Regions from separate parts of the Homo sapiens genome. Here region 1 is linked to region 2. The links come from fine-mapping of genetic effects on gene expression. A gene starts in region 2. The other region holds a variant in brackets. All regions are shown on one strand. Distances are from middle to middle.

The links. PIP is the estimated chance that this variant, and not a neighbour inherited with it, causes the effect. A credible set is the group of variants that fine-mapping cannot tell apart.
Region 1: its variant is the best candidate, but not a certain one, in a credible set for the expression of DNLZ in spinal cord (GTEx, PIP 0.54).

What each region holds. Positions count from the first base shown.
Region 1 is chr9:136,383,230-136,391,229 of GRCh38, forward strand. It overlaps SNAPC4 (small nuclear RNA activating complex polypeptide 4), which reads right to left. Exons shown (of 24, transcript NM_003086.4): 11 at 5,215-5,362; 12 at 4,513-4,619; 13 at 4,256-4,350; 14 at 1,491-1,585; 15 at 724-803; 16 at 1-439. Among named protein-coding and RNA genes, the nearest start is that of SNAPC4, 13 kb to the right of the region's middle. The variant G/A (reference allele first, on the strand shown) is at 4,826.
Region 2 is chr9:136,357,416-136,367,725 of GRCh38, forward strand. DNLZ (DNL-type zinc finger) reads right to left here and starts at 6,329. Exons shown (of 3, transcript NM_001080849.3): 1 at 6,072-6,329; 2 at 5,574-5,713; 3 at 2,068-4,765. The coding sequence starts at 6,299. The coding sequence ends at 4,597. CARD9 (caspase recruitment domain family member 9) reads right to left here. Exons shown (of 13, transcript NM_052813.5): 8 at 10,222-10,310; 9 at 9,801-9,842; 10 at 9,385-9,430; 11 at 7,726-7,802; 12 at 7,068-7,144; 13 at 6,541-6,986. The coding sequence ends at 6,887. LOC124902309 (a long non-coding RNA gene) reads left to right here and starts at 5,954. Exons shown (of 2, transcript XR_007061863.1): 1 at 5,954-6,037; 2 at 10,209-10,310. It overlaps GPSM1 (G protein signaling modulator 1), which reads left to right. Exons shown (of 14, transcript NM_001145638.3): 14 at 599-2,186. The coding sequence ends at 805. RefSeq lists silencers at 5,685-5,964, 6,065-6,564, 6,595-6,694 and enhancers at 6,906-7,796, 7,797-8,686.

The DNA of each region.
Region 1 (8,000 bases), 25 kb after region 2:
AGTGGGAGGCCTGGGCAGACCTCGGGACAGGGCCGTGGGCCCTGGCAGGGACCTGCACCGGACTCGTCTCCTCTCCAGGAGCCGCGGCTGTGGTGGAAGCTTCCTTGCTGCCGCCCTGGCTGGCACTGGACCCCTTGGGAGGGCTGAGGGAGGCAGCGGGGCCTCCCAGCCAGGCCCCTGCCCCTCCTCTCCATGGCTGGCTGGTGCTCTGCCTGGCAGGAACCCACAGGTCCATGTCCGGGACCATGTACTGTGGGGACAGCAGCGCTCTGTCACCCTCCCCGGCCTGCGCCTGCTCTGGCTCGTCCTCCTCGCTGCTGCTGCTGCTGCTGCTGCTGCTCCCTCCACTGCTGCCACTGCTGCTGCCGCTGCTGCTGGTAGAGCTCCACCGGACGCTGTGACGGGCCCTCCGCCGCCGCCTCCGGAGACCCTGCTTCTTCTGAGGGGAGGAAAGAGCTACTTAGAGGCCTTGGCAAGCCCGGTTCACCCATGATGGCAGCAAGCAGGCCAGCCCTTTGGGGAGAGGCCCAAGCGGGGGCGCCTCCGGGGTCAAGAGCAGCCGCTGCCGAGGCAGGGTCTCCCTTTGCCCTTGGCCACCCAGAAGAAGAAATGCCAAGACCAGAAACCGAACGCCCCCCTCCCCTCCCCTCCTCCTGCCTGCTGGACCCCCCAGTTGACCAGGCCATTGTCTGGTTTCAGATAAAGAAGGAGCGAGTGGCTCACCCCCATCATGATCTTCCACTTGCTCAGACACTGGGAGCCAGACCGATGGGGCAGCTCAGAAGCTATTTTTGCCCAGTGACCTGCAAAAGCCAAACCCCATGGAAATGCCTTCATCCAAAGATTCTTCCCCAGGACAGGCTTGCTGTTCCCCAGGAGACTCGCCGTGGCCCCATCAGAGTGGAGCCTCCTGTGCACTCTCACGCTGGGGGGTCAAGCATGTTGGGTGCCTACAATTTGGCAGCATCTGATTCTCATTGGATGCTCAGCCCCTTAGGAAAGTTCTGCCAAACATGTAACTGAGAAGGAAAAATCGTCCTAAGCGCACACCACGGCCCTCACATATCTGCTCCCCCCAGGCTTCCGCACCAGCCACCTCCCACGATTCCCGCTCTTCACAGTGTGGGGCAGCAGGAGGAGCACGGGTGCTGCTCTCACAGGGCAGAGCCACAGTATCTGGTGTGTCCTTGAACGTGGCAATACCACAGCTAGGATTTACTCTAAGGGGACATTGCAAATATAAGCAAAGACTTCGCTACAGAACACTCAGCTCGTCGGGTGTGGTGGCACACACCTGCAGTCCCAGCTACTTGGGAGGCTGGGGCGGGAGGATGGCTTGAGCCCAAAAGTTTGAGGCTGCAGTGGGCTATGGTCGCACCACCGCACCCCAGCCTGGACGACAGAGCTTGCTCTGTCTTTATCTTGATCTCTTTTCTAAGAAACAAAAAACAAAAAAAAGAAACTAGAAGAACAAACTGTCAGCAACTTACCGACACCATATTTTTCTATTAATTCAATTAACTGTTCCTCTTCTTTTAAATTCCACCGACCCTTTTTCAAGCTGAAATGTAATCTCCTGAGATACCTGAACGTGACATGAAAAGCAAAGAACGTTTTAGATGCCGAGACGCCGCCCGCTGCTGCCCCAAGCTTCTTTAATGGTTTCTTGGATATGACACTAAAGGCGCAAGCAACAAAAGAAAACTACAGATAAAGTAGACTTCATCAAAAGCTAAAGCTTTTGTGTCCCAAAGGACACCATCAAAAAAGTAGAAAGTGTACAGGCTGGGAGAGAACGTTTGCAAGTCACGTGTCCGATAAAGGACTTATATCTGAAACATATGAAGAACTCTTACAAGTCAGTCATAACTAGACAAGTAATGTCAAAAATGGGCAAAGGACTTCAACAGACACTTCTCTAAAAACCTATTTCTATGAACAGTCACCAACCACATGAAAAGAGGCTCCACATCAGCCACAGGGAAGCGCACGTCAAAACCACAAGACACCACTTCACACCCGCTAAGATGGCTAGAATCACAGACAGATCACAAGTGCTGGTGAGAGTGTGGAAAACCGGAGCCCTCATACATTCCTAGTGGGAATACGAAATGGTTCAACCTCTTTGGGAAACAGTCTGGCCATTCCTCAAAAGGTTAAACACAGCGTTACCCGGACCGAGCAATTTCACTCGCAGGATATAGCTGAGAGAAATAAACAGATATCTATGTAAAAAAGTGCAAGCAAATGTTCAGAATGTTTTCAGGGTTCATCCATGTTGTATCAGAATTTACAGAAACGCGGTATTTATATGAGAATCCCACTCCCCCCCCTTTTGTTTTTTTTGAGACGGAGGCTCACTGTCGCCCAGGCTGGAGTGCAGTGGCGCAATCTCAGCTCGCTGCAACCACCAACTCCCAGGTTCAAGTGATTCTCCTGCCTCAGCCTCCCGAGTAGCTGGGATTACAGGTGCCCACCACCATGTGTGGCTAGTTTTTGTATTTTTAGTAGAGACAGGGTTTTACCATATTGGCCAGGCTGGTCTTGAACTCCTGACCTCATGATCTGTCCGCCTTGGCCTCCCAAAGTGCTAGGATTACAGGCGTGAGCCACCGAGCCCTGCCAACCCCTTTTTAAGGCCGAATAATATTCCCTTGTATGAAAATTTTATTTTCCACTCATCTGCTGATGAATGCTTGGGCTGCTTCCGGCCTTTCACTCTTGTGAATGATGCTGCTGTGGACATTGTTGTATCTGAGCTCCTACTTTCGATTCTTTTGGGTTTTATGCTTATCAATCTTGGGGGTATAATTCTATGTTTAACTCGCTGACGAACTGCCATGCTTTCCAAAGAGGCTGGACCATTTTACAACGCACAAAGGTTTCAATTTCTCGACATCCTTGCCAACACGGTGACTTTTTTTTTTTTTTAATTAACAGCCATCCCAACGCGTGTGTGGTTTTGACTTGCACTTCCCTAATGACTCATGGCGCCAGGCATCTCTTCATGTGCTCACTGGCCATCTGTGCATCTTCTTTGGAGAGACGGCCACTCAAGTTCTTTGCCCGCGATTAGATTGGGTTGTTTTTGTCGTTGAATGGCTTTTTCGGGTGATGAAATGTTTTACAATTGATTGTGGTGATGGCTGCACAGCTCAATGAATACTAAATACTAAAAACCACTGACCTCTACCTCTACACTTCATTTTTTTTTTTTTTTTTTTGAGACGGAGTTTCACTCGTCGCCCAGGCTAGAGTGCAATGGCGTGATCTCGGCTCACTGCATCCTCCGCCTCCCAGTTTCAAGCGATTCTCCTGCCTCAGCCTCCCGAGTAGCTGGGATTACAGGCATGTGCCACCACGCCCGGCTAATTTTGTATTTTTAGTAGAGACGGGGTTTCTCCATGTTGGTCAGGCTGGTCTCAAACTCCCAACCTCAGGTGATCCGCCGGCCTCGGCCTCCCAAAGTGTTGGGATTATAGGCGTGAGCCACTGAACCTGGCCTTCTACACTTCATTTTAATTAATTAATTAATATTTTTTTGAGACAGTCTTGCTCTGTCACCCAGGCTGGAGTGCTGTGGCGTGATCTCAGCTTACTGCAACATCCACCTCCCAGGCTCAAGCGATTCTCCTGCCTCAGCCTCCCAAGTAGCTGGGATTACAGGCGCCACCCCCACCATGCCCGGGTAACTTTTGTGCTTTTAGTAGAGATGGGGTTTCGTAGAGACGGGGTTTTGACCTGGCCTCAAGTGATCCGCCTGCCTTGACCTCCCAAAGTACTGGGATTACAGGCGTGAGCCACTGCGCCCAGCTTCGGAAATATACACTTTAAATGAACGCATCGCATGGTGTGTGAATTATCTCAACGAAGCTGTTTTTGAAAGGAAAATAAGCAGGAAAAGGAGGGAGCTGCAGCTGTGTGCCCAGAGGTCCTGCCTATCAGCATTCTGAGAGAACTGAGACAACTAGGGTCAGGAAAAGCCGCCCAGGGAGCTGTCTCAAGTGGAGCCCATGCGTTGCTCCGGCAGACAGCAATACAGAAGTCAGGCTTGGAAAACACAGCTCAGCCGGGCCAACCCTGGCAAGCAAGCGCCCACAGCCCACACCAGAGTGCACCTGGTCAGCGACCCACACGGGCCCCTCCCTCGCCCAGCGCTGGCCGCTGTCCCCCAGCCCGCCCACAGCCCACACCAGAGTGCACCTGGTCAGTGACCCACACGGGCCCCTCCCTCGCTCAGCGCTGTGCGACTCACCGATCTCGGCACTGGGCATCGCTCCTACCTGGCACCTCTTCCCGGATTTTAAACCAATCCTGCTCCCCGTATTTGGCAACAGCTTGAAGCAACTTCTGCAGGAAGGGACAGGCAGACAAGTGAAGCCTCTGCAGGTACGGCTGCAGCCTCCCCACCCTGAACCCAGTCAGAGAAGGGACCACTGGGGCACAGCAGCCGCTGAACACAGCCGCGTTACCTTCCCAGAGCCCAGTTCTCCTAGGGTCCCGCACACTTACAGCATCTTCCTCCGGGGCCCAGTAACCCTTCTTCAGACCAGGATCCAAGCTCTTGGTCCATCGGTAGATCAGCTGCATGGAGTCTCTCCCTTCCATATAGTAGACAACTAGGGACAGAGGAACAGGGAGGTCCTGTGGGGCCGAGACACACACCCTCCATAGAGTAGACAGCTAGGGACAACAGGGTCCCGTGGGGCCGAGACACCCACCCTCCAGATGGGTCACATAGAAAAGAATCACTTTGGCCAGGTGCAGTGGCATCATGCCTGTCATCCCAGCACTTTGGGAGGCAGAGGCTGGCGGATCACCTAAG[G/A]TCAGGAGTTCGAGACCAGCCTGACCAACATGGTGAAACCCCGTCTCTACTAAAAATACAAAATTAGCTGGGCGTGGTGGCGCATGCCTGTAATCCCAGCTACTTGGGAGGCTGAGGCACGAGAATCGCTTGAACCCGGGAGGCAGAGGTTGCAGTGAGCCAAGATCATGGCGTTGCACTCCATCCTGGGCAACAAGAGTGAAACTCCATCTCAAAAAAAAAAAAAAAAAAGTCACTTGAGTCACCAAGAAGCGAACTGTGGAACAGCCAGGACTGTCTAAGCCCTCGTCTGTCTTGTTGCTTCTCTGTGAATTTTCCCTGCAAGTCTCCAGTGTCCTGATATGGGGCCCTGTGACAGCCTGAGAGCCGTCGGGGTGGAGGGGCCTCACTTCTGCGGTAGGGGATGTGGCTGCCGACGCGCATCTCCTGCACCAGCTGCGTGAGCATGCGGTCCTCCTCCTCTGTCCACTCCTTGCGTTTCAGAGCTTTGTTGTGCTGCTGGAATTTCTGCAGGCACTGGAAGGCGCTGCGGCTGGTCTTCCCAGGCCCAAACAAAAGCAAATGAGTGTTACTGCGCGGCAGGATGTCCAGATCTGGCTCTGAGTGCCCCAGGGCACAGGTGGGCCCATGAGCCACTGGGGTGACCCTTCTGCAGACCCCAGCTCTCCTCCTCCCAGACTCCTGTGGGCTGATGGAGAGCACCCCACGGTAGGAAGACAATACACTCACTAAATAGGACCAGGAAGGACCAGGTGAGAGAGGAATCAAACCTTCACTTAAGAAAATATTAAGAAAAATTCACAATAGGTAAACTGATATGACTCCAAAACCACACTGCAACTCACTCAACAGAAACTCCCAGCTTGGCAAGGGCTGGGAGACGCACTGCTCTGCATGTGGCATGCTCTCTAAATGCAGTTGCTAGCACCTTCTCTCCCTTCTCGAGCTCTAGAGTATCTCTCAGCTAAGGGGTATGGGGTGGAGGAGGTACGGGACAGCCCTTGGTTTGGTGTCCATGTCTCAGGAGACGCCCTCAGAAGAGAGTGCCCCAAAATGACTCTCCCAGCTTCCCTGTGTGGCTCGGCTCAGCAAACCCACCCTCAGTCCACACAGTGGACCATCTGCCCAAATCTTTTCCTCACTCATCTTCTCAAGGGGTTTTCCAAGAGCTGATGAGTGCTACCTGAACCCTGTTCTCTGAAAGTGAGCTGCTGGGTGGCACAGGGCACACAGGGCTAGATATGCTCTGAGGTTTGCTTTTTCTGAAAGTGAGCTGCTGGGTGGCAGAGGGCGCGTGGGGCTGGACGTGCTGTGAGGTTTGCTTTTTCTGAAAGTGAGCTGCTGGGTGGCAGAGGGCACGCAGAGCTGGATGTGGTGCCGCTGAGCTGTGAGTTTTGCTTCCAAGGCTTTCTTCCCCACCAAGTCCTTCCCAGCTCGCTACATCACAGGTCTATCTGAGACTCGTTCACCACAAACAAAACCACCACCCCGGGGTGTGCAAGCTGCAGGGCAATCCTAGTCAACGTGTGTGAGCCTCGCCCGCACGCCCCCAAGAGAGTGCTTCTGGGAACATAACACACTCAAGGCCTCACCCGTCCTCCTACACTCAAGCTGGCGCTTCCCAACCAGTGGAAAGAGAGACCCTTCTCACACCCATCCCAAGCCTGCCGAAGGAGTTGGGAAGGCAAAGGACTGGGGGGTGGGGCGGGATTCAGAGCTGGGCCCTGCTCGGGTAGCTGAGAGCAGCAGCTCTCAAAGGGGGCTGGAGGGTGGCTGGAGTGAAGCTGGAGGGAGGCTGCTGAGGCCTTAGCCTGGCTTTTCTTGACAGTGACTAAAAACACTTCCCTGGAAGGAGAAAGAATCTGGCGGGGGAAAGTGCTGGCGTCACGCTTTCTGATATTAACAGAGAAGCATGTCTGACTATGTGTTCGAAGGAGAAAAAGCCATTAATGGATGGAAGACAGTTGAATTCCCAAAAATCACAAGGAGAAAAACCGGACTTACAGTTTCATCAAACCAGCAAGACAGAGTGGAAGGAAAAGAGGCCACAAAGTAAAACGGACTCGACACACCAGACCCAGGAGGACACCAGGAACACCCACCCTCCCACAAAGCCAGAGGCTGGTCAGGCGGGTGGGAAAGCAAAACCCAGCTGCACGCTGCTTTCATGAAAACACTTGGAAATGACGATTTGTTAAAAGGCTGAAAATACAGGGATGGGCCGGGCGCGGTGGCTCACGTCTGTAATCCCAGCACTTTGGGAGGCTGAGGCCGGCAGATCACAACGTCAGGAGACTGAGACCATCCTGGCTAACACAGTGAAACCCCGTCTCTACTAAAAATACAAAAAATTAGCCGGGCGTGGTGGTGGGCGCCTGTAGTCCCAGCTACTCGGGAGGCTGAGGCAGGAGAATGGCGTGAACCCGGGAGGCGGAGCTTGCGGTGAGCTGAGATCGTGCCACTGCACTCCAGCCTGGGCGACAGAGTGAGACTCTGTTTGAAAAAAAAAAAAAAAAAAAAAAAAGGAAAGAAAAAGAGCTAATGAGCTAACGCAAGCTGGGCTGAATCCCTGGGTGATGGGCTGATCTATGCAACAAACCACCATGGCACACGCTCACCTACGGAACCAAACTGCACATCCTGCACACACAGCCCTGAACTCAAAAAATATGAAAAACAAAAAAGAAAAAAAGAAAGCAGACCCCGATTAAAAAAAGTTATGTGTACCAAACTATGTAGCAGTAAAATATACATAGAAGAAAAACCGATTTGTATTTATTTATTTATTTTTTTTTTTTTTGAGACGGAGTCTTGCTGTCGCCCAGGCTGGAGTGCAGTGGCGCGACGTCCGCTCACCGCAAGCTCCGCCTCCCGGGTTCACGCCATTCTCCTGCCTCAGCCTCCCGAGTAGCTGGGACTACAGATGCCCGCCACCACGCCCGGCTAATTTTGTATTTTTAGTAGAGACGGGGTTTCTCCATGTTGGCCAGGCTGGTCTTGAACTCCCGACCTCAGGTGATCCGCCAGCCTCGGCCTCCCAAAGTGCTGGGATTACAGGGGTGAGCCACTGTGCCCGGCAGAATTAAGCATCTTTAAAGGCAAACTCAATTTAATAGCTGATATAGAGTAGGCCCTACTTACAGAGAACATACCTTTTTCTTAAAAACAGTTTTGG
Region 2 (10,310 bases):
CACACGCATGCCTGCGCCAGCTCCCGTCCCTCCTGCTCCAGGCGCTTCAGAGAAGCCCAGACAACCCCTTGGCCCCCTGGCCTGCACACTGGAGCAGGCGAGGCCCACGGGGTCAGCCACCTGACACAAGGGGAAGCCCTGGGGGGCGCCACACTTCGGGCTCTGGAAGCTGAGACCTCAGGCCTGCCAGGGTCAGTCCCAGGCTGTGCTGGTTTCCAGGGCTGGGCAGAGGGACGGCCACGCATGCCCGTCCCTGGGGATCAGCAGATGTGGGGAGCAGGCATCCAACGCCGCCCTAGCCACTGTCTCCTGGGCCTGGCACACCCATGCCCAGTGGGAATCGCTGGACCTGCTTTTCCTGGGCGGGCCTGCCCTGGGCTCCTGCGGGTTGGTGGCGGGGCCACCAGAAGACTGCGCTCAGGGCCCGGGCTCCCAGCACAAGACCCCAGAGCGAGGCAGGCCCCAGAACCAATTTCCTGGGTGGACAGGGGGAAGCCCGTGAACAGTGCACGCTGGCCTCTGGAACCACCGCTGCTGACCAGCCCCGGACCACTGGGGCTGGGGGGGTGAGGCCGCCAACTGCACTGTGTCCACCCAGTCCTCCAGGATCGATGACCAGCGCTGCCCGCCACCTGACGTACTGCCCCGGGGCCCTACCATGCCGGACGAGGACTTCTTCAGCCTCATTCAGAGGGTGCAGGCTAAGCGCATGGACGAGCAGCGGGTGGACCTCGCCGGGGGCCCGGAGCAGGGGGCAGGCGGCCCGCCCGAGCCCCAGCAGCAGTGCCAGCCTGGTGCGAGCTAAGGCCCTGTGCCCACCGCCAGGCCCACCCTGCCCCCACTCCTGGACGCCGGTCTCACAGTCACAGCCACGTCCTCCCGAGGCCATTGCCGAGGACAGGCACTGGGCATGCAGCCCCACGGCCTCCCCGACCCAGGGCGACAGGCTCAGGCCAAGCTGCCCGTGGTGGGAGGGCGTGCTTCCATCCCGGGCTGGCCCCCATGGCCCTCAGCTTCCTCCCTTCTGCCCCTGCCGCAGGCCGGACGGGGCCTTCGGCATGTCGGCCCCGACCTGGTGCTGTCAGACTCCCGCATCCTCTCCCCCAAGCCCTTCCCGTTCTGCCCTGCCCTGCCAAATGTGAAACCCTGCTGTCTCCCCCACCCTCCCCAAAGGTGTCTCTGAGCCGCCTCTTGGGGCCACCAAGGACAGGGCCATGTTCTGTCCCCCCAGAGCTGGTCTTGGGATGGCCGTGTGACAGGCATGCTCCACCCCTCCAGCTTCGTCCTGGGGCAGGGCTCCCTCCAAGCCTGTCTCCCCACTCCCCGGCCAGAGGTCAGCAACCACAGAAGGCCCCCCAGACCACGCATGGCAGACCAGGCTGCAGTGGCAGCCCTGAGGTGCCCCCCGCCGAGTCCCAGGGCCCTGCAGGGGCCTCGACAGGAGCCGGGCCTATCTCTAAAGCAGAGGGAATGGCTGGGCATGAACTTCGACATTCCAAAACCCCAAGCCAGGAAAAAGGGCAGGGCCTGGTCCTAGGGATGCTTACTGGCAGCAAGAGCAGTGCCCAGTCAGGGTGGGAGGTAGCACCAGGCTCTGTGACCCTCACCCAAGTGGGGGGGTGGTCAGTGGAAGCTGGGGAGGCTTCACTCAGCTCAACCCTGCAGACCCCCCATATGAGAACCCCCCTCCTCCCACCAGCTGGGGGAGATGACATCACTGCTCTCTCCATGGGGAGGGGGCTCACAGGGCACCAAGTTCGGGATCCTAGGACTGGCAGGACCTGCTGGAGCCTGAGATGGGCCCCAGGGGCCTGAGGTTGCCTCCTCCTGTCCAGACCCAGCCTTGGCACCTCCCAAGACTGCCAAGGGCCCTACCATGGCCCCACAGCCCCCAGGGCTGGCAGTTCCATCTAGGAGGGTGCCTCTAGGCCCCACTCTCAGGCTAGGATGGAGAGGCAGATCTGGGCCTGGTGAGGTGACCTGCTTCTGGAGGGGCAGGGCCGCACCCGAGAGCAGGGACAGGTGCCCGAACACAGGGTCTCCAGGACGTAGCGCCCCCCCGCATACTTGAATGTATGTGCGTATTTATTGCTCACGTCTGTGCCATGTTGTCAATGGGTCCTTTCCAACCCAAGAGGTACATTTGTTTTTCTGTTTTTCCTGAAAAATAAAGTCGGCCAAGTGAGTGTGGTCCGTATGGGCTTAGTCCCGGGTGGGGGCCTAACCCGGTAAGAGGCTGCACTGTGCAAAGTGTCCACAGATACCCACTGTCTGGGCCCTCTGAGACCTCAGAGAGATGGAGTTCCCACTGCATTTAACCACGGGGGAGCTGGGGCACAGAGGGGTGAAGTGGCTGCCTGCTGTCACCACTGATTCCTGCACCCCTACCTCCTCACGCTCCCAGCCCCTAGGGAAACAGAGCATGCTCTGAGCTGACACTCACGTGGCCGGGACCAGCCCCCAGAAGCAGCAGCCCCCAGGTCAGCCCCACGACCCCCTGAGGACCCAGCCTGCTGCCGCCCACCCAGCACCCGGGGGAGGGAGGTCCTTTCCTGGAGTCTGATCCGGCTGGGCTCAGGGTCTGGACACTGAGCCACAGTGGAGGAGCCGACGGCAGATCTGCAGTCTTGGGGCTTGTCTGGGCGCTGCTTGTGGTGGGTGGCACCCCCACGGGGCCCCCGTCAGGGGACACACAGGTGCGCCGGGCAGTCCTGCTGCCCCTCGCCACAGCCCACCTGGCCATGTTGGCAGCCACAGCCTCTGTGCTGGTTGACTCCGTTGCCTCCTCCACCCCAGAAGGGGCCTTGGGAACCAGAATCAACGTGTACTCCAGGTCCAGGGTCCCAGCCAGCTTGCGTGTGGTGGTACACGCACACAGGGTCCAAGTAACCGTGCAGGGCCCAGGACCGCGCACAGCCAGGGAAGCGCAGCAGTGCCGCCCACGCTACTGGCTGGGACAGCCTCTGAAGGTGCGGCCGAGGAACCTGCTTGGAGAGACGCTGTGACGAGGGATGCCCAGGCCAGCAACCGTGCCCGGGAGGCAGGGATGTCCTGGGGCGGGGGGGTGTAGAGTGGCAGGAGATTAGGATGGCAAAGCCCCTTGCAGAAACCTGGCTGTGGGATTGGGGCTGCGGGGAGGGAAGGGCGGAGGGAGACAGGGTCCAGGGGGCCTCAGGCAGGAGCTGGCGGGATGCTTCTGGCACGCGGGGGGTAGCCATAGGTCTTCTCTAGGAACGTGCCAGCCTTGGGAAGGATTTCCCTCCAGGGCCAGCCTGGGCCCAGAGGTGCTGGCATCAGACAGAAAAGACATGGTAACGTCCACATCCCAACTACCAGCCGCCATCTCCCCATCCGTAAGAGGAGGGGTTGGCCCAAGCGGCTCTCCTTGCTCTAATTCTGCACTTCCAGGTCCAGACGGCTCCCTGGACCTCCCCACATGCTGGTCCAGGCCCTCTGGAGGCAGTGAGGCAGCCAAGCCAAGCCCAGCCCCACTGCACTTCCAAGCCCCCAAGAGACCCCCAGCCAGTGCCTCCATGGAGGAGCAGGCCTGGGTGCCGGTGGCTCAGCCGAGAAGAGGACAGTTTCCACAAATGGCACAGAAGGCTCTGGGTGGGAATAATAGAGGGTTGTTGGCTGAAAGAAGGACAGGGGGTAATCGAGGCAAAGCCCACGCCACAAGCACACTGGGAACGATGCCGCCGCGCCCCGGCCTCCCACGGGCCGGATGTGAGCTGGCAGTCCTGGCCGTGTCCCGCTGGGAGGGGCCGCACTGGGTCCCTGTCGTGCTCAGTCCTGCCTCCACCTCCCACCTCGCCCCATTCTCTTCCCTGCCGGAGTGTGGCGGGTGATGAATGCTGAAGGTTACGCTGCCCAGAACGCTTCTGCAAATAAACAGGCTGCTGTGTTTGCTCGCTTTCATAAACACGGGAACATCCTGCGCACAGACAAGGCTGGGAGACAAACCCCACACACCTCGGAGGGCCCTGGGGACGTCCAGAGCGCTGTCCACCGAGGGAAGGAGGCCCAGGTGGCTCCCCCGGGAGGGGTCTGGAGCTCCTAACACACGGCCACGCCATAGCTGCTCGTCCTGCCTGGGCCAGCAGGCAGCCTGGTTTGCTCACTGTTTCGCCGACGGCCGGCGGCCGAGGACCAGGGCTCAGGTCTGCACTGGCTCACGGAAGGGAGGCCGCCAGAGCTGGCCAGGGGGGCGGCAAGGGCCTTGCAGAGGAAGGCTGAGGCTCACAGGGGTGGTGACCTGCTCAAAGTCACGCAGCGACAGCCAGGAAGGGCTCTGACGCCACATCCAGCCCCCTTTCCACGCGACTGTGGCCTCTGTGGGCAAGAGCTGGGTGACTCTGTGTAGAAGGAACTGTGGTGAGGCGAGAGGTCCTGCGGCTCCTATGTCCCACCCAGCAGCACCAGGGATTCAGAGCAATCGTTCTAACTCCAGAAAAAGAAAGGCCACGAGGGCCACAGGCCCCAGCATCTGGAAGTAATGTCTGTTTATTGATAGAAAACAGGCCACGTCCAGAGAGGCCCAGGGCCAAAACCTCCTTCTGGAAGGCCGAAGTCCCACAGTGCCGGGGAGCGCAGGAGTCAGCTCGGCTCCGTCTTGCCAGGGCTGGGGGGACCCTCATCCTCACCCGCTTCCGGAGCTGCAGTGGATGTGGGGGCCCCTGCAGCCTCCAGAACCAGTTCCAGGGCCCCCTCGCCCGCCACACGGTGCACCTGCTCGCCTCTGGCCGTCAGGATCTCTTCGATATTTCTGGGGGGCAGGGAGGCAACATGGCTCTTCAGGGCCCCCCAGCCGCCCTGCACTTCAGTCCCCTCAGGGCGCCCCATGGCCAGGCCAGAGCTGCAAGCACCAGGCCCAGCACTCCTGTGGCATCAGGCCACACGGGCACTTCAGACGCTGGCCTGTGTGCCCTCACCAGCCCTGTGTCTCTGCCGGTATGCGCCGCCTCAGGAACCCAGTCTCCTGCTCCTGCCCCCTATGTGCCAGAGGGAAGAATCTGCAGCCCCGGGTCTGATGGGAGGACAGTCCCAGCTCCAAGGGCCAGGTACCACCAAGCACCTGGCATGCTGGTCTCAGACCTGCTGTCGCTGTTACTGTCCTGCCCAGGACCTCCCGGCCAGGCAAGGCCCGGACCAGGCTCCCGGCACCACCTCCACTGCTCTCCCAGCAGCCAGGGCCCAGGCCACACCTCCTGGTCCACACCCCAAGCCTTGCTGTGGGCCAGCCACCCCAAGATGGCAGAGGGCAAAAAAGTTCCACGCTAGAGAGGGACAAGGCTGCCAGTGATGGCAGAGGGCAGGCAGAGGCAGGGAGGCAGGGCCACAGGGCTGGCAAAATTTAACAAATAAAAACGCACCCCCTACTTGGGGCATACTTAAACTCAAAAGCTATCTGGGCTTTATAGGAAATTCTCATTTAACTGTGTGTCTTGTATTGATAAGGTGGCTGGATTTCCCAGGTGAGATCTATAAACCTCAACACTAGGGCAAGGTTCCCCCAGGGAGGCCAGGGTACTTCTGGGTGGCCTTCTGGCCCAGCCCTGGGGTACAGGCCTCACCTCTTCCCATTCAGGTCCGAGAACCAGCCCAGGTTGTCAGCGATGATATGGTGGTTCTGGCAGCCGGGGCAGGTCACAATGACCACGCCTTGGTGATAGGCCAGCTTGGAGATGCGCTTGGAGGACCTAGTCCCGCAGACCTGGCTGGGACAGGGTAGCTGGTGAGGCTGTGAGGGCCGCCACGCCCCTCCCGGGAAGACCCGCCCCTCTAGGGGTAGCTCCAGCCACCTCACCCTCTCCAGAGAAGGCCCCGCCCCCGAGGGATAGCTCCACCCACCCCCAACCTCGCCCTCTCCCGGGAAGGCCCCGCCCCAGGGACGGCTCCACCCCTCCTCATGGTCCGCCTCCGCTCCCTCCCAGAAGCCCCAAGGGGTGGCTCCACTCCTTCCTGTGACTTGACCACGCCGCCTCCCGGATCCCCGGCGGGCCGCTTCTCCCCGCAGGCCGTGTAGCGTCAGATACGGGTCTGTCCCCGGTTCCGTCCCGCCGCGCGCCTACCTTGCAGGTGTAGACGAGCTGGTAGTGCGCCGCCTCCACGCGCCCCAGAGCCGCCGCGGGCCCCGGCCCCTGCTCGGAGCTTGAGCGCCGCCAGCCCCAGGCCCAGGCCCGCCGCCTCCCCGCGACCTCTGGACGGGCCCCGCGGCCCCACAGCCGCCTCAGGCAGGGCGCCCGGGGCTGCACGCGACTCAGCAACCTCGGCGCGCCGCGCAGCGCAGTCCGCAGCATCCCGCTCGCCGGCTCCGTCCGCCCTGCCCCGGCCCCGCCCCGCCGCCATCTTGGAAGTGGGCGCCGGGCGGAAGCGGCGTTCTTGGGCTTCCGTCTTCCGGGTCGGGGGCGCGCTGCGCTATGCCGCCCCCTGGCGGCCTGAGGGGGCCCTGCGTCCACGTGCAGCTCGCACCCCGAGGACACCGCGGGCCGCAGCGAGGAGGGACGGCCGCGGGGCTGCGCGCGAGTGTCCGAGCGGGAATGCGGGTCACCCGTGCTGTTTATTTACGCAGCTGTGTTTTCTAACACTAATACAATGCATGCATGTATTGTGTGTTACATGGTGAAACAGAACAGATCCTGAAGTTACACAGATGGCGTGTGCATGGGGGTGGTGAGCACCCGCATGGCCTCCGCAAAATGAGTGCCGCTTAACAAACGGCCCCAATGCCCGGCAGTCCGGCTGGGCCTTTCAGGGCACCAGATTCCTCGTTCCAGGCCAAGTCAGCGACGGCTCGGGGAAGTCTGCGCCCCAGGGCGTCGGCACCCCCGGGTGGCAGGAGGCCGGGCCGGTGGGTGTGCCCTGGTCGGGGCCTGCGCTGCTGCGGCTAGGAGCCCTCAGTGTCGGTGTTGTCGCTGCCCGTGGTGTTCTCCCGGTCCTCCTCCCCCTGCCGCCATCCTTTCTGCATCTTCCTGAGGGCGCGCTTCCTGTGAAGACAGGTGTCTCAGGCGCGACCCGGCTGCCGCTCCCCAGCCCGTTTTGGAGAAGCCTGGGGGCCGCCCGCCTACCTGCGGTAGTTCTCAAAACTCTCTTTGAGGCGCCGCCGCTCCTTCTCGGGCGGCTCCCCGCTGCTCAGGCCTGCGTCCTGGAGAAGGGGGAAGGCTCGGGCTCCGGCCGGCTCCCCTGAGGGAACCCGTCCTTCTCACCCGCCCCCCACTGGCCCCTGTAACTGCAGACTGGTTGGGAGGCGAGGAGCCCAGACAGCCTCAGCTCAGCGCCAAGCTCTCCCTGTGGGACCTGCCTGTACCCCTGGAGGTGAGCCGGTGTGGGTAGCCTGCATTTCAGATGCCAAGACACACCCAGGAGGCCAAGCCACGGCTCCAGCCTGGGGTCCGGGCCATTGTTTCTACAACAAAGCCCGAGGTGGTGCTTGCTCTCAGGACTCCTGTGTTCACCTCCTCATCCACTGTAAAGGCCCTCGGAAAACCAGGACCAGGCACATCCACGTCCAAAAAGCCCCCCAAGCTGCTGCAGTGCCCAAGAAAGGGGGATCCACTTCGCAGCCCAGACACCGCACCCCGAGCACTGTGGGCAGAGACCTTGTGGTCACTCCTCAGCTGTCGTCGGGGCCACCGCAGGGGGTGCCCAGGGCAGGGAGCCACTCTCCCTGTGATCGGTCACCCTGAGGCCCACGGCTGGGAGGACCCCACCCCGGGGAAGCCTTACATGGGGGTTCCGCAAAACCTGCTCCTGGTGCAGAGCTGCAAAGGGCTGTTTCGGGCTCCCCCCGCCGGCAAGGCAGCCTGGAAAGGAGAGTCGTGCCTGTGGGACCTGCCCATCTGCTGGGCCACGTATAGCACGGCTGCCCCACCCCTCCCCGGCATTGCAGTGGGGCTGTCTTCCAAGGCCTGGTGGGATCCCCACATGGGTCCAGTGTAGACTCTGCTTTCTGTAGATGAGACTGAGGCCTTATGGCCTCGCTTGCCTGTTCATTGCTCCAGGAGGCCGCCAGATGCCAGCCCAGGCCCAACGCTCCCGCCAGTGACCATCCCTCCCCCGAGCTGGCTGCCTGCCAGGGAGGAACGCCTCCCAGACCTCGGGGGAACTTAAACCCTGGGCCTGAGCAGCACCGTCCCCCATCACTCCAAAGCATCTGTGGGCATGGCGGCCCTGGGGAGAGAGTTGGGGACAGCTACAGTGGCTGTCTGGGTCCTCCTGAAGTGGGGGCAGGGGTACTGCAGCAATTGGGAGAGAACCTTCAGGCGGCTGGACCCCCTCAGAAACCGCCAGGACCTGGGCAGACCAGGGATCAGGACCCTTGGGCAGAAACCACGCACGTCCAGTCTCAGCCCCACTGCGGTGAGGGCCAGGCCAGGGCTGTCCTGGCCATTGGCAGCCCCTTAGAGCCAGCCCCTCCCCTGCTCACCCTCCAACCTTCACACCTGCCCCTGCTCCTGCCACAGCCACCCAGGGGGATGGGGGCAGTGCCTGAGCCGGACTCCTGGGTCCTGCTCGCCTCTGTGCCTACATGGGGGCTTGGCATCCCCATGTTCAAGTGTTCTGAGCTGCAGCCAAAGGCGCTGGTCTTCACTTCCCCGTCTGCGGCTCCTCCTTCCCCTTCCGCCTCTGCTTGGAGGCCACGGCCTGGTACTCAGGAAGCTTGTCCAACTCCGGTGCAGCCTCCCAGGACCCCTCTGCTGGGCCCTCCCCAACCCCTACCTGACAGCACCTTCAGTGCAAACACCTACCTCATCACCACTGCCCACTCCTGGACACTCGGGAGCTGCTCCCAGCTAGCCACCCAGTCCTTCCCCCAGACAGGCAGAGGGGGCCTGCCCTGCCCGCTAGAAGCCCCTGCCACTGCCTTACCCCCACTGCACCGGGACACAGCAGGCCCTTGGCCACCCCTGCATTCAGCCCTTTCCCTCAAGCCACGTGGGGCCCCATCTCGCCCCATCTTCTAGCTTCATGCACCTGGTCGTTCGCTCGTTACCACCTCCCTCTGTCCAGGAGGAAGCTTGGAGCAGCCAGGACTGGGCCTGCTCACCTCTGCACCCCGTGGGGGCTGCCCAGAGGGGCCCCACACTCTCAGGACGGTGGGCCTGCTCACCTCTGCAGCCCATGGGGGCTGCCCAGACCCCCACACTCTCCACCCCAGGGGACACTTGTCCCACTAGCTGGGGCCCTGGGTTCCAGCTGGGCTCTGTAGTTTGTTCTCTAGGTGACCTTGACCATTTTACTTATCCCCAGCCCCAGTTTCCCTGTCTGTGGAGTGGGGGTTGTGGGGGTTGACACAGGCATTGCGGCACGGGCTGCCTGTGCTGAAGATGGGCCTCACTTGGGGAAGCTGGGAGGCCTCTGGGTGTACTGCTGTCCCCACCTCACCTTTGTCTGAGAGCTGGGTGTCCTCCAGGTCCTGGGGGAGTGAGAGCTTCCAAAGAGAGTCAAGATGTCCCATTAGGCCACTTCGCCAAGGACTGGACCCGGCCACACTGCCCACCCCAGCCCTTGGCCCTCAGCTGGGTGCAGCCATTGCCGTCACCCCCTGCACAGAGCTTCTCAGAGACTCAGGTGCCCAGCAGACGGACATTGGGCGGCCAGGAGGTGGGCACTGTCCGTGCCTTACCTTACCCCTTGAGCCATCAGAGGCCTTAGCATTTGGCCACCTGCTCTTCCTCCACCCAGCCCAGCCCACCGAGCAGGGCCATGTGACGGGCAGTGTGGGGCTATGCCTGGTGGCAGCTCAGCCAGGACCCCAGGTGAAGGAAGGCCAGCCTCGTGCTGGCTGGGGTCTCACTCACCTCCTGGGACCTCCTGGGTGAGCCATCTTCCAGGTCGGAGCTCTGTGGTCATAGAAAATGGGGTGGGTGGGCTGTGAGGGCAGAGGGCTCCCCAGGCACAGGGTGGGCAGGGCACAGAGCGGGATCCTCCAGGGAGCCCTGGGCATGCCCTCAGCCACACCAGGCCCCCTCCATGCCCAGAACAACCTGCTAGGCTGCCTGATGGCCAGGCCCAGGACCCACCCCGGCCCTGCAGCCCCACTTCCTGCTGGGACCCTGAACTGCTCGTGTGCCCTCACCCCACTGCCAGGAGGGGTTTGGTTAGGTTGGGGCCCGTCACAGAGAAGGGTTGGGTCGGGAAGGCCGGGGCTGAGGCTCCGTGCTCCCCTGGCCCTGCATCCCACGCGCCGGCTCCCCTCCCTGCCGCAGGCCCCAGGCCCACCAGGACGAGCGTCTCCAGCTGCTGCCGCCTGAGCCTGCCCTCCACGGCCAGTAGCTGCGCCTCACACTGGAACACCTGCAGCTGCAGCT